Linked DNA regions of Homo sapiens. The protein of the gene in region 2 interacts with the protein of the main gene of each other region in a pairwise test. Each region holds a gene or a part of one and is shown on either strand. Other genes may lie near its edges. The genes, in order: FRMD1 and PIN4.

Region 1 (3,807 bases), on a different chromosome or scaffold from region 2:
TCCCGGCCCCAGAGCTGTCACCCAGGGTCACCCCACAGCCCGGGTGCCGGGGATAAAAGGGCAGTGACTGTGGGGGCTGCTGGACAGCAGGCTTGCTCTGGACAGCCAGACCGAGGTCTTCCTGTCCCACCCCAGACCTCCACTCCCCTCACACTGCTGCGGGCACTTTCTAGCCAGGAGGGCTGTGTCCTCTCAAGCAAGGGCGGAGCAGAGCACAGTGTCCGCGCACAGTGTCCGCCAACAGCCATCTGCACTGCGAAGTGAAAACCTGGGCCTCGTCCCCCTGGGGGCCATGGCTGACATTTAAAATCATCCTTTCCTGTGGCTAGCGTGGTTTTCCACCTGTGGAGTGGCAACTTCTCTCCTGTTTGCTCAGGGAAAGAAGCTGGAGATCCAGCTGGATGGGCTGCCCGCAGCACAGAAGCTGGTTTACTACACGGGGTGCACCTGGCGGTCCAGGCACCTGCTGCACCTGCTGCGCGCCAGCCACCAGCTCCACCTCCGCGTGCGGCCCACTCTGCAACAGCTGCGGCAGCGGGAGGAGGCAGAAGGTGGGGCTGGGCTGGGTATGCTGGGCTCCGCAGCCGGACTGTGCCTTCTGGGCTAGGCTGGGCACACTGGGCTCTGGCCGGACTATGCCTTCTGTCTCTTATTGTTGTGGCCTCCTGACTCCCACGTCCCCCAGATGCTGAGGTCGAAGGGCGAAGTGGTGGCCCCCAGCTCTGCCTGGAGTGGAATTCTATAGATGGGACTGGGGGAAGCTGGGAGCTTGAGGAGCCACCTGAGGTTTCCACTTCTCAGTTTCCTGGTCTGTTTTCCACTTCTCCTCCCATCATGTGCCCACAAAGAGCAAGAAATGCAGGTTCCGACAAGGCCTCAGTGTTTACCCACAGGCCTGGTCTCCCTTCCTGTTCCACATCCTCACCTGAGCACAAGGCCTGGCCTTAGTGTTTACCCACAGGCCTGGCCTCCCTCCCTGTTCCACATCCTCACCTGAGCACAAGACCTGGCCTCAGCGTTTACCCACAGGCCTGGTCTCCCTCCCTGTTCCACGTCCTCACCTTGAGCACAAGGCCTCGCCTCAGCGTTTACCACAGGCCTGGTCTCCCTGCCTGTTCCACGTCCTCACCTGAGCACAAGGCCTGGCCTCAGCGTTTACCCGCAGGCCTGGTCTCCCTGCCTGTTCCACGTCCTCATCTGGGCTGTGGGTGTGCATTTCTGTCTCCCGGGCTCTTCCTCCTGCATCAGCAGGGCTGGTCCCTCTCCAGCTCGCCCTCACTGTGCTCCCCACTCCCCACAGAGAAGCAGCACTACCGGGAGTCCTATATCAGCGATGAGCTGGAGCTGGACCTGGCCAGCAGGAGCTTCCCGGGCAGTGGGGTCAGCAGCCAGCACTGCCCCCACTGCCTCTCACGCCACTCCGCCGACAGCCACGGCAGTTCCTACACGTCAGGCATCAAGGCCAACTCCTGGCTCAGGGAATCCAGAGAGATGTCTGTGGACGTGCCCTTGGAGGTCCACGGGCTCCATGAGAAGGAGCCGTCCTCCAGCCCCAGGACCAGCCGCAGCCACCCCAGCACACGTGGTGACAGCCAAGGTGGGCCCGAGGGAGATGCCCAGGCCTCAGGGACAGTGAGTGTGGTCCAGCCAGCCCCAGCTTGGCTGACCCTGGACACCGAGGCAGCAAAGCCCTGGCCTGCCCTCCAGTGGCCAGACGTGAGGGGCTGGGCTGCTTGTGACCTGAGTCCCAGGAAATGTGCCAGAACATGCCGGAAGAACAGAGATGGCAGGGAGGAGCTGCCTGCAGCCTGCTGTGCCCGAGTCTCCTGTTCCTGCCAAGGGGCAGCTGCAGGCTGGGATCAGAGACAGGAGAGGTGGGATCCTCTTGGGGTTGCAGATGAGTCCAGGTCCTTTAGCTTTCTCGGAAGCCCATCTCAGGAGCCCCTCCCACTCCTAGGAAGCCCCTGGCCCCTAGGAAGCACCCCCCCAACTCCTAGGAAGAACCCCCCTCCCAAGGAATGCTCCCCATCCCGGGAAGCCCCCCAACAAAACTCCTAGGAAGCTCCCCTTCCAGGGAGCCCCTCCCTCTCCCAGGAATCCCATCCCCACACATAGGAAGACCCCCACTCCTAGGAAACCCCCCACTCCTAGGAAGCCCCCCACTTCCAGGAAGCCCCCCATTCCTAAGAAGTCCCCTCACTCCTAGGAAGCCCCCTGGACTCCTAGAGACCCCCCCAACTCTTAGGAAGCCCCCCCCACACTCCTAAGAAGCCCCGTGGACTCCTAGGAACTCCCCCAACTCTTTGGAAGCCTTCTGACTCCTAGGAAGCCCCCCACTCCTAGGAAGCCCCCTACTCCTAGGAAGCCCTGTCCTACCAGCTTCCCTCCCATCAGAAAGCCTGGGTTAGACTCATGTCTTTTTATACTCAGTTGAGTAGGAGTGAGAAGACAGAGCCATTCAGAGTGTTCTAGGACCATGTGTCCACCTGGCCCAGGACGCAGCACCTTGTCCTGAGGGATGCACCCTGCCCATTCCCTGTGTGTAGGACTGTGTGTGCACCTGGCCCAGGATGCAGCACCCTGTCCTGAGGGATGCGTCCAGCCCAGTCCCTGTGTATGAGGCCCTGAAGAGCTTCCTCATTGCCCCAGAAAGGGGACGTGAGCTCTGCTGGTCTCTGAGTGTCCCCACGGCCCTGACGGTGGATGTGATGAGATCAGGTGGGACCAGCCCCAGGGCTCAGTCACCCAGGACCGCCCAGCATCACCTACAGTCACCCAGGGCCATCCAGGGTCACAAAACATCACCTAGGGCCTCCCAGGGCCAGGCATTCCTGTCACTAAGCCACTGTGTCCGCCATTGCCCTTGGAGTGTCTGGTCCACCAGGAAGGGATGGTTGGCCTCCATCTCTGAGGATGTATGCAAGCTCTGTGGCCTGTAACCCAGCGGGAATCACCGTGCTAATCCCGCATCTGCACAGCAAGGGGCCGTTTTATCAGATGTCGGGGAATGGAGCAAAAGCAGTCACCGCACTGAGAGCAAGGGGGCGGTGTGAGCCTCAGGAGATGCCGGTCCGAGACCAGGGCCCCAGAAGTGCAGGGAACTGCCCTGGGGAGGAGCCATGTCGGGCAGAACCCAGACACCTGTGCTCACGGCTGCCTCCTCCCACAGCCACTCGTCAGGAGCCCTGCACCCAGGTCAGGACCAGAGGCCAGAGCGCCGAGGCCGTGCACCAGGTAGAGTCCCCCCCACGGGCCAGAAGCCCTGGCCCTGCTCCTCCACCCCCTTCTCCTAGGTCCCCTGTCAGGGGCCCTGGGGACCTTCCTAGGCCTATCAGAGGGTCCCTCGACTGACATCCCCAGAGACGCAGCGGGCAAGTCAGGGAGCAGCAAGGCTCTCGGGCACTGGGGCAGGTGGACGTGGGTGGAGGCCTCAGCCTCAGGGCCGAGTGAGTCGGCTCACTGTGGGGAGGGAGGGGTCCTGCCTGGGGCTGGGGTGGCCGGGCCCTGAGTGTCACCGGGCCACTGTAGGCAGGACCCGGACACCTGGGCCCTGCAACCTGCCATGCAGCAGACTGGCTGCCCCGTCCCCTTCGTCCACCTCCTCCACCCGGGGCCTAGTGCTGTGTGTGCAGGGCTGCTCCAGGCTTCCCCCACTTCCTGTAGAGCTACTGAGCCTTAGGATCCCCCAGAGGAGCTAGAGGAGAAGCGAGCCAGTGGTTCCTGGATGCCCAGGTGGGGAACAGGTGGGCTCAGGGTTCCCAGCCAGGCTCCGAGTTGCCCTCCCCACCCCCCAACCCCCGCCCCCGG
Region 2 (4,363 bases):
AAGCAAGAGTCTCCATCTTGCTTGTCTTAGTATCTCCAAGCCTAGCACAATGCCTGGCACACAAAAGGTGTTTTAATAAATGTTTGATTAAACTGAAAACCCCAAATACTGACTACCAAAACCCTAAAAAAATGTTACTGCCAAAGGAGTGTTATTAAATCAAACTCCTAACTGGGTTTGCTATAGATCCATTCTTGAATGATGATGCCTTCCAGTTATCCCATCCTCTTCCCTGCTGGATGCTGTCATCTTCTGACTGCCACCTCACTGCCTTTGATTTCCTGACGACTCTGGCATCAGCTTTGGGCTTCCTCTCCACCCTCACTCCTGCCATTACCTTGAGTGACCTCACCATCTATCTTGGGGAATCTCAGTTCTAGGTCTCTTTCCCGAATGTCATGCTCTCTACTCCAAGCTACCTGCCCCGGGGGCACACGATGGAACTGTGCCACTCAGAACTAGTTCAGTCTCTGGCTATAACCTCCTGTTCTTCCAGCTTCCTCATGTCTCATTCCCACAATACTTGCTCTTTAACTTCACAGAACCTCTCCCTTGACCCCAGTCCCTTCGTCCTGCTACATTCACCTAGGCCACCAGACTTCTTTTTCCCTTCCCACTCTGGACCCCATGTTCCTTCATCTGAACTGCATTCCCACTGGCCCTTGTAATTCCCTGGTGTTGCTATCCTCCTATCATAACTGCCTAACAAAACCTCAACCATGGCTTAAGGCTGCACCTAGCTCTTTTCAATCCTATATTGTGCCAATTGCATAGTACTAGGTAAATCAGACTGTGAAGATTATGTAGTCTACAAATTCATGGCCTTTGATCTTAGTCAGGCTCCTAGCCCTGAAGGCACTTCTTTTGTGTTTCATTCCCTCTTCCATTACGATATTCCAGACCTTTACCACTCTCCTCAAGATGCCTACTGAGTCCCTGCCCCTCCATCTCCTTTCCTATGACCTCAAGCATAAGGTGTCCCTGCTCCCCCTAGGTCCTGGATTCCATTTTCTCCTAAATCTCACTCTTCTGTACCTTTACCTCTTTTACTTTACTGGATCCTTCAGCTTCACTCCCAAGTTTTCCCCATTCCAAAGAAGCAAAGAAAATAAAACTTTCTCTTAATCCTCTGTCCTTCTCTATCTACCATCCCATTTCCATGCTTTTCAATTAAAACTTTCCAAGAAGTCCAAATTACCACTTCCCAGTCAGTTCTCTAGTCACGGTAATCTGGCTTCTGTTTCACTGAAACCACTTTTACCCAAGGCCACCTCTAATTTCCAAATCTGCTGTTCTTGATAGACTATACCCTCTCTCTTTAAAACATTCTGGTCTCTCCAGCCTCTGGCCACCATTCTGCACTCCCTCTATCTGTCTGCCTCTTTCTCTGCCTGTCCTAGGATCACATCCTCTGCTCTCTGCTCTTTTCATTCTATAAACTCTCCATGGATAATTGCATACACTCTAATGGGCTCAACTACCATCTATAAGTTAGCGACTCCTAAAACTTACATGTACAGTCTAGACCTCTCCCTCAAACTTTAGACTCAAATATCCAACCACTTCCTGACTACATCTCCACTGAGATGTCCCACAGACACCTCAAAGCCAATCTATCTGAAAGTGAATTCATCAATCTCATCCCCGCTCCTCATGTATCCTTGATGTTACCCTGCAGGACCAGCAACAGGTTAGAAATCCAATCCAGAAAACAGAATGATCGTTGATCCTCCCTCACCACCCCTCCCCAACCCAATAAATCACCAAGTCTTGACTATTTCACATCCTAATATTTACAGAATCTTTTCTCTTTTCTCAGTTCCCACAGCCACTCCCTTAGGTCAGTCCACCATCATCTCTCACCAAGACTACCACAACAATCTCCTTACAGGTCTTTCTGATCCTTAACTGTCCTTCTTAGCAGAATATATAGCACTCTCCATGATCTCGTCTTTGTTTCTGTTTTCATTCTCACCACTTGCCATTCTGCCTTGAGTTTTTGCTCCAGCAACACTACGCTGCACACATCATGCTGTTTCTCACCTCAGTGCTTTTGCTGCTGGACCCCAAGTAAGGAATGCTTTAACCTACCCTCAATGCACATCTTGACCTGCCTAATTCATCTCCAGGAAGTCTTCCGTTCCCTGTTCCCCAGCTAAATGAAGGACTTCCCTCAATTTCTATTATATCCCATACACATCCCTCAACACTACATTTAGTACAGTGCTTTATGATCACTAAGCCTTTATCTTCCTCACTACTTCGGGAGCTCCTTAAGGCCAAAATCTCTTTTTTTTTTTTGAGACAGAGGCTCGCTCTGTCGCCCAGGCTGGAGTGCAGTGGCGCGATCTCGGTTCATTGCAACCTCTGCCTCCCGAGTTCAAGCGATTCTCCTGCCTCAGCCTCCCGAGTAGCTGGGATTACGGGCGCGCACCACCACCACGCCTGGCGAATTTTTGTATTTTTAGTAGAGACGGGGTTTCGCCATGTTGGCCAAGCTGGTCTCGAACTCCTGACCTCGTGATCCATCCTCCCTCGGCCTCCCAAAGTGCTGGGATTATAGGCGTGAGCCACCGCGCCCAGCCTTCTGTCTTATTTGTGTATCCTCAGCGCTTAGCACTCTGCCTGACACATTTCTGTTCAATGGATGAATGATTCCTTCCCCGATGGTGGGCATGTCATTCTGTAAGCATTAAAGTGAACTTTAAGGACCATAACCAATGTGTACTTCCTATTGCTGGCTTTTGATAAGACCCAATTTTAGAGCTCTAATAACCCCTTGAAATAGCAGCCCTAAGTCATCGCCTCCGAGGAACTATCCCCATCAGATTCCATTACCCACTAGGACGGTCCCTGAACCGTAGCCCAATGTATTCCTACAGATGTAATCGATGGCAGCACTGTGGGGCCACTGGCTACCTGCTGCGTCCGTCCCGGACTCCGGAGATGGACTGTCTGTTCCCTCCCTTCGCTCCTCACCCGCCCCCATTCTCCTTGATCGCTCTGGCCGCTCTACCTTTCCCCGCTTTTCCAGAACCACTTTTTCCTTTGGGCGGCATCTTGGAAGCTTGTTGTTGAACGCTGAACCGCTCCAGTTGCCGTACAAGCCCCTTTAGAAGCCCCGCCATGGGCATGTCCTAAACAAATGCCTGAAAGCCGCATCTCAATTGACCGTTCTTATTGCGGCTCCGGAAGCAGGCACAGCTTGGGGCAGACCCCGTCCTTTGGCTCTTGGACCAATGGGGCTGAAGATGTCTGACCAATAAGACGCTTGGGCCGAAACAAAGGCAGAGGGGCGGAGACAAAGGCCGGATTAGGGCGGGAAGCCTGGCCTCTGCGCTTTTTGTGACTTCTTTCACGCACCCTAATTTGCACCAGATCCCCCACTCCCCACACTCTACGCCCGAAGCTCCCCCGTTCCCCTCAACCTGGCTTTTTTCACGCGTGCGCAGTAGGAGCCACGGGGGTGGGTGGCTCTGCAGTCCCTCGGCGCCAGCTCTGGCCAATCCCGCGGGGCCGCCAGACAAAGGGAAGCAGGAGTACTGTGGTGGCGGCCAACTTCCGCTGTCTCCTCCTACACACAGGGCTGCCCTCCCTGGCAGTTTTTCGTTTGTTAATTTTATTCTGCAGTTGTAGCTAATTAGGTTCAAAAGGTAGTTTTTAAAAAAGCCTGTCACCTTTTTGCGTCTTGCAGAGCTCAGTCATGGAGAAACATTGGAAGCAGTCTGAGTGCTCCTCAGTCGGGTACTGCTTAAATAATGTTTTAGCCACACAAGAAGATATTATACAACATTCAAAATAACGATTGTAAGGCTGTGTGTACAGATAGGGGAAATGTTTTTAAGACCAAGATAAAGAATATGATTCCTTGTAAAAGAAGTATATGTAATGTATTGTATGTTATATGAATATAAAGGAGAGGAAAGCTATAGAGCAAGATGTGGCCAGTGGTGCTAGTGCATACAGGTCATCGTGTTTGTTTCTGTGTATTTTCCAAAATTTCCATAATGGTGCAGCATAGTGTAGTAAAAGCATGGATTCTGGAGCCAGATTGCCCAGTTTCAAATCCCTGCTCCACATCTGTCTACTAGCTCCATGACCTTGAGGAAGTTACTTCACCTCTCTTTGGCTCAGTTTCATCATCTGTGAAATGGAGTTGATGATAATAGTACCTACTATTATCCTATCAGGTGTTAAGAGAATTAAACAAGTTCATATCTGTAAAGCACATAAAATGATGGCTTGCTCATATTAATAATGTTTGCCTAAGATAAATGATTTTTGAATTTGTGCCCACACACTTTTTCTCCCCTTACAATCCCTCCCACCATCAATAATTTGTATATGATATGTCAGGGCGTTT

What was found.
Region 1: the proteins of PIN4 (region 2) and FRMD1 interact in a two-hybrid assay, tested with the Homo sapiens proteins (one large-scale study listed by BioGRID and IntAct).

The regions. Positions count from the first base shown.
Region 1 is NC_000006.12:168,058,551-168,062,357, reverse strand, and holds part of FRMD1 (FERM domain-containing protein 1), read left to right. Parts: intron 1-376; coding exon 377-551; intron 552-1,300; coding exon 1,301-1,597; intron 1,598-3,169; coding exon 3,170-3,234; intron 3,235-3,807.
Region 2 is NC_000023.11:72,180,482-72,184,844, reverse strand, and holds the start of PIN4 (peptidyl-prolyl cis-trans isomerase NIMA-interacting 4), read right to left. Parts: upstream 3,060-4,363; coding exon 3,017-3,059; intron 1-3,016.